Homo sapiens: one gene and its partner. The protein of the gene in region 1 purifies or fractionates together with the protein of each later gene. This does not show direct contact. Each region holds a gene or a part of one and is shown on either strand. Other genes may lie near its edges.

What was found.
Region 2: the proteins of SYNGR4 (region 1) and GULP1 purify together in Homo sapiens (affinity purification with mass spectrometry; one large-scale study listed by BioGRID and IntAct). This does not show direct contact.

The regions. Positions count from the first base shown.
Region 1 is NC_000019.10:48,374,074-48,376,911, forward strand, and holds the end of SYNGR4 (synaptogyrin-4), read left to right. Parts: intron 1-1,539; coding exon 1,540-1,679; intron 1,680-2,011; coding exon 2,012-2,245; 3' UTR 2,246-2,304; downstream 2,305-2,838.
Region 2 is NC_000002.12:188,571,285-188,575,111, forward strand, and holds part of GULP1 (PTB domain-containing engulfment adapter protein 1), read left to right. Parts: intron 1-3,827. UniProt on the Homo sapiens protein: May function as an adapter protein. Required for efficient phagocytosis of apoptotic cells. Modulates cellular glycosphingolipid and cholesterol transport. May play a role in the internalization and endosomal trafficking of various LRP1 ligands, such as PSAP.

The DNA of each region.
Region 1 (2,838 bases):
CTCTTTTTTTTTTTTTTTTTTTTGAGATGGAGTCTCACTCTGTCGCCAGGCTGGAGTGCACTGGCACAGTCTCGGCTCACTGCAACCTCCGCCTCCCGGGTTCAAGCGATTCTCCTGTCTCAGCCTCCTGAGTAGCTGGGATTACAGGCGCACACCACCACACCCGGCTAATTATTTTTTGTATTTTAGTAGAGACGGGGTTTCAGTGTGTTAGCCAGGATGGTCTCGATCTCCTGACCTGGTGATCCACCCACCTCTGCCTCCCAAAGTGCTGGGATTACAGGCGTGAGCCACCACGCCCAGCCAAAGTCTTGCCTCCTAACCACTGCCAAACACTCCCGATGGAGCCTGGCATAAGCAAGCACAAAATGTGTGTCCTTCTTTGGGGCCTGACCTCCTTCCTCTCAGTCTGTTTGATCTCAACTCCTCCCCACCCTGCCGCTCCTCCTCCCTACTGGGCCAGTCCCAGTGACTTAGGGCCAAGGGAGCCTTAGAAGGTCATCGAATCTAGTGCTGTGCAGGAGAACTCCCTGTGAGGGTGGAAATGTTCTGTCCCTGCGCCTTCTCATGCAGGAGCCACTGACCACCCGTGGCTATTAAGCACTTGAAATGCAGCTGCTGGCCGGGGACGGTGGCTCACACCTGGAATCCCAGCACTTTGGGAGGCCAAGGCAGGTGGATAACTTGAGGCCAGAAGTTTGAGACCAGCCTGGCCAACATGGCGAAACCCTGTCTCCACTAAAAATACAAAAATTAGCTGGGCAGGGAGGCGAGTGCCTGTAGTCCCAGCTACTCGGGAGGCTGAGGCAGGAGAATCGCTTGAACCCGGGAGGCAGAGCTTGCACTGAGCTGAGATTGCGCCATGGCACCCCAGCCTCGGCAACAGAGCGAGACTCTGTCTCAATAACAACAACAACAAAAAAAGAAATGTGGCCAGTGCAGCTGAGAAACATTTTTTTTTTTTTTTTTTGAGACAGAGTTGCGCTCTGTCGCCCAGGCTGGAGTGCAGAGGCGCAATATCAGCTCACTGTAACCTCCGCCTCCCAGGTTCAAGCGATTCTCCTGCCTCAGCCTCCTGAGTAGCTGGGACTACAGGTGCCCGCCACCGTGCTGGGCTAATTTTTGTTTTTTCAGTAGAGACGGGGTTTCGCCATGTTGCCCGGGCTGGTCTCGAACACCTGGCCTCGAGTGATCCACTTGCCTCAGCTTCCCAAAGTGCTGGGATTACAGGCGTTAGCCACCTCGCCTAGCCTAAAATCCTGTGTTAATGAATAGAAATTTAAACCGCTGCATGAGGCCGGCGGCTCCTGTATTAGACAGCGCAACTCTACTCCAGCAGCTCACTTTAGGGAAGGCTAGGAGGGACTGGGGAATGACTTGTGGGAGATGTGTCAACATAGAAGCTAATAAAAAAAGTATTTTTCAATACCTCGTGGAAGTTCGTGCAGCAAGACCACCAGCCCCATCCTTCCCATGCCTCAGCAGCCCTGCCTGAGTGAGCTTTCCCCCTGCCCCTTTTCTCTCCCTGTGACGCCACAGTTCTCTGGGCAGTTGTCTGGTTCATGGGTTTCTGCTTCCTGGCCAACCAATGGCAGCATTCGCCGCCCAAAGAGTTCCTCCTGGGGAGCAGCAGTGCCCAGGCAGCCATCGCCTTCACCTTCTTCTCCATCCTTGTCTGGGTGAGGACAAGCCCCTCCACCACCCCTCCCTAGGAGGGCACCCTCTGCAGGGTGGGGTTGAAAGGGCTAGAACATTCCTGCTCTCACTTAGCTCCCCTGGGGGTCAGGGGTCGGGGGTTCCCCCAGGACTCCACTGGTCCCTTCCAGGTGCCGCTTCCTCTGAGCAGCCACAGCCCAGCATCAGGGCCTGTGCTTTGGCCTAGGGCTCCTGGGCAGTGAGCAGTCCAAACACCGGTATCTTTTGTCTCCTTCCCAGGCCAGTCCCCAGCCCAGTCCCTCTCCTGACCTGCCCAGCCCAAGTCAGCCTTCAGCACGCGCTTTTCTGCCCACAGATATTCCAGGCCTACCTGGCATTCCAGGACCTCCGAAATGATGCTCCAGTCCCTTACAAGCGCTTCCTGGATGAGGGTGGCATGGTGCTGACCACCCTCCCCTTGCCCTCTGCCAACAGCCCTGTGAACATGCCCACCACTGGCCCCAACAGCCTGAGTTATGCTAGCTCTGCCCTGTCCCCCTGTCTGACCGCTCCAAAGTCCCCCCGGCTTGCTATGATGCCTGACAACTAAATATCCTTATCCAAATCAATAAAGAGAGAATCCTCCCTCCAGAAGGGTTTCTAAAAACAGCCCTCAGTCCTTCTCATGTCTGTTCCACTCTGGTTGCTTGAGTGGCGAGGGTGGGTAAGAATCCCACAAGGTCACCGCTGGGGTCTCTGCACTGGGTCACATTTCCATACCATCTCCTGGAACCATCACTGGGGCACCACCTTGATAGTGACGGATGGGAGGTGGTGAGAGGCGGGAAGCACTTTTTTTTTTTTTTTTTTTTTTTTTTGAGACAGAGTCTCGCTGTGTCGCCCAGGCTGGAGTGCAGTGGTGCAATCTTGGCTCACTGCAACCTCTGCCTTCCAGGTTCAAGCAATTCTTCTGCCTCAGCCTCCCTAGTAGCTGGCATTACAGGTGCGCACCTGTAATGCCCACCACCACGCCTGGCTAATTTTTGTATTTTCAGTACAGACGGGGTTTCACCATGTTGGTCAGGCTGGTGTCGAACTCCTGACCTTGTGATCCTCCCACCTCGGCCTCCCAAAGTGCTGAGATTACAGGCCTGAGCCACCGTGCCCGGCCAGGAAGCACTTTCTTCAGGCCTGTTACACACT
Region 2 (3,827 bases), on another chromosome or scaffold:
ATATCTAATACTAGAATCATTCACAAGCTCATCACTATGAAAAAGGATGTTTCTATAGAAGTTTCATTTAGGGTTTCAAACTTGGCACACTCTGGAAATGGGTCAAAAAATGATTTTTCCTGTAAACTCACATTTTTCCACCTCCCATTTGAAAGAGTGAGTATTTCCATTGCTTGGCAGATGGTTTGTGCCAGTAGGGCTCCTATGGCCTTGATGAGAGAGGTTGGGACTGAGGTACCAATGTATCTATGCTGGAGCATCCTCTTCAGGTTCTGGTTTTATTCTGATATTCCTTCTTATTTTTTCTTGTCACTGTCTGCTGCTCACCAGGATTATGATTTTTTTCTTGCCTCTCTCGCTGCTAGGGACAGAACATCAGTTCAAACTCATTATTCAACCTTCCATCCCAAGATGGAACACACATCCTCTTGGGTTTTGTTGAAATTCATATTGTAAGCCATGTTGCGAAATATGCTAGGAGAATAAGAATAAATGTACTTCATTTATGTGAAGGGAAGTAACTTTTTCAAGGAGTTTTGATAACGTAGTTGTTTCTGGAATTCATCACATATGAAGAGTAGCTTTGCTTTCATTTTTGTGTTGACAAAGGAGTAAAATAAGCTCCATCACCTTCTTGGATGCAAATCCAAACCTGGTCATTGTGTAACCTCTTTATCTGAGGAAGAACATTTGAGAGGAGCAAAGAGGTTTCAAACATATTAATAAAACTGCAGCCTACCTTTTTTATCTTCCCAAAGCAGACACTGCTCTGAGAAGAAGGTGGGTCAGGATTATTAATGTGCATTGGTGATCTCATAGGGTTACTGAGTCAGCTTCAGAAATGACAAAGGACAGGAGGAATGACAAGATGACCCTTGCTTCAGTGTCTTTGACCATTTGGCTGAAATAGCCATTTCAAGTGGAAAGCATGCAAGTTGGTATATAAATGAAACATAGCCTATTCATAAGTATAATTCATTTATTTAGCAATTCTCATTAGTAGAGCCAGTTATATATAAAGAGTAAAAATAATGAAATAGCTATGTTTTAAAATGAATTAGCACTCCTGAGGTTACATCATTTAACAATTATTTTAGGCATTGTGTTCATCTCAGCCTGGATTTATCTAAATAAAATGCTTCAAAAACTACAACTAAGAGGTTGAATTTAAAAACAAATCACTTTCTTTAAATCACGGTCTTACACTGAGTTCATATATATGTAGAAAATTTATTGTATCCTTGATCATTATGGAAATAACAAATTATAACTTTGCAATCTACTTATAGTCTTTTGTCATGTAATGTTGTTGTCTACACTTTTTCTTTAACTTTAAAAATTATTTGTCACATGGCTTTTTAGCTCTTAAAATCTTATCATATGATTTTTTAAATTGTTGATATGCTGGAAGATATACATCTTCATTAAGATAGAATCTGGAGGACATTATACTAAGTGAAATAAGCCATGCACAGAAAGACAAATATCACGTGATGTCACTCATATGTGGAATCCAAGAAAGTCAAACTCATAGAAGCAGAGAGTAGACTAGTGGTTGCTGGGGGCTGGGGCAGAGTTGTGGAGAAAGGGTCTAGAAGATGATCAAAGGATGCAACATTTTAATTAGGAGAAATAAGTTCAAGAGATCTCTTGTACAACATGGTGATTATAGTTAATAACAAGGTATTATATACTTGAAAATTGCCAAGAGTAGTTTTAATTGTTCTCACAACAAATATGTGAAAATAGAATTTATTTGATTTTTAGAAGAAAGTGAACTCAAGAGCATTTTAAAATTGCTAAAATTTAAATGTAAAATTAAATGCTAAAATGTAAAATGTAAATTAATGAGATATCTAACCAATTCAAATGGTTTAAAAAACATTGTTACAGCATTTGCTAATGTGTTTCCTATTAAAAAACATTTTTGCCTTTCATTTCAAATTTTAGTAATGTAGCTATGAAATAAACTCGTAGAACACTTAAGTACAGCTTATTTATCTCATATCTATTCAAATGAGCTCCCAAATTCCTGATATTAAAATAAAACAAAAATAGTTACCTGCAATTATTTTTGAAGATTTATTAATGATTCAGATTATTGAATTTGAAAAACAGACAATGCAAATTGCAAATAATAAAATGTGAATTTAAAATATTTAATAGCTTACCATGTGTCTGCAATAAAGCAAATTTCTGTTAAGTTAGAAATGTTTTACATCTGTTCTTTCTTATGAAATTTGAACATCAGTTTTACAGGACACACAGCAGGAACACAAAGTACCTCACAGAGTGCCCCCATGGCTAGCAAAGTAAATGTTTAATGAGTTTATAACCCTGGAAATAGGACTCTGTGGGTTTTATGTGTTTGTTTTGAGCTCAGAGGACTGAGGATTAGAGTGCTCCAAAATGAGTAAGTTCTCATCAGTTTATTCAAAGGATTAGAGGCAGTGATCTACACATTCATTAAAGAAGCATTGAAGTAAATTATGAATCCCGTGATGCATATTGAATTACAACATAGGTGGGTATGGTGTATGCAATTAATTTAGCATCTGATGAGTTTTTAGTGGTGAGAGGAGCCCCTAACACAGAAAACTCTTCACAACTGACCAGCCCAAGACAGGTCTTGATCCCATTGGAAGCCAAATTTTTCAAGTCACAGAAAGGTGACACTTTTGTCAAAAATCTCTAATTGAGGTGTAGTTCTTTATAAATGATTTAATGCTATAATTTGGTTCACAAATATATACTTATAAGCACAATAATGTTCTAAAATATCTGGATATGCTGGTCTAACACAATATAGTTCACACTAAGCAATTGCTAGTCAAATAAAAGACATATTTAATCTTAGCTTTAGTATAGTCTCTTTGGGGAAAGGGAAAGAAAAAAAGTAGGAATGGAATTTTGGGAGTTGTGGAATTAAAAGTAAAGTGAAAATAAAAATAATGTAAATCACTATTATAGATATTATTTTATTTTCAGTTTATGATGAAGTAGAAGATGAAGCCAGATGTGGCAAGCAACAGAAACATTCTTGATAAAATTTGATTAGGCTGGGCATGGTGGCTCATGCCTATAGTCATAGCACTTTGGGAGGCAGAGGTAGGCTGATAGCTTGAGTCCAGGAGTTGGAGACCAGCCTAGGCAACATGGCAAAGCCCCATTTCTACCAAAAATACAAAAATTAGCTGGGCATGATGGTGCATGCCTGTAGTCTCAGCTACTTGGGAGGTTGAGGTGGAAAGATTGCTTGAGCCGGGGAGGTGGAGGCTATGGTAAGCCTGGGAGGTCAAGGTTGCAATGAGCCGTGATCATGCCACTATATTCCAGCCTGGGTCACAGAGTAAGACCCTGTCTCAAAAACAAACAAACAAACAACAACAACAACAAAACTTGGCTAGATAACTAAAAAATGACAAGCCATCTTCTCTAACAAGAGGTCCAAAGTTAAAGTTGAATTTCCGTAATACAAGACAATGATTCAAATCTACCAAATCGTCTAATAATATATTACAGTCTTATTGATGTTGATATCCTTATTCTATGTTAAATCATAAATTTAAAATGTGAGGCCCAATGCAGTAGAATGATCTACATGGACACCTTTGTATTTTAAAGAGTCTCTGTTTAGGTGAGAACATACGTGCATGTTTCTACTTTCCTCAGAGACACTCTAAGGGAAGGTTGCTATTTCTTAGAAAGTTTGTCAGTCACTTATATGTTATATACATGAACATGAATTGGTCATACTGATGGATTTTGAATTGCAAACTAAATAATTTTAGGTTGAAGCCTTGAATAAAAATATTCAAGACTTCTAA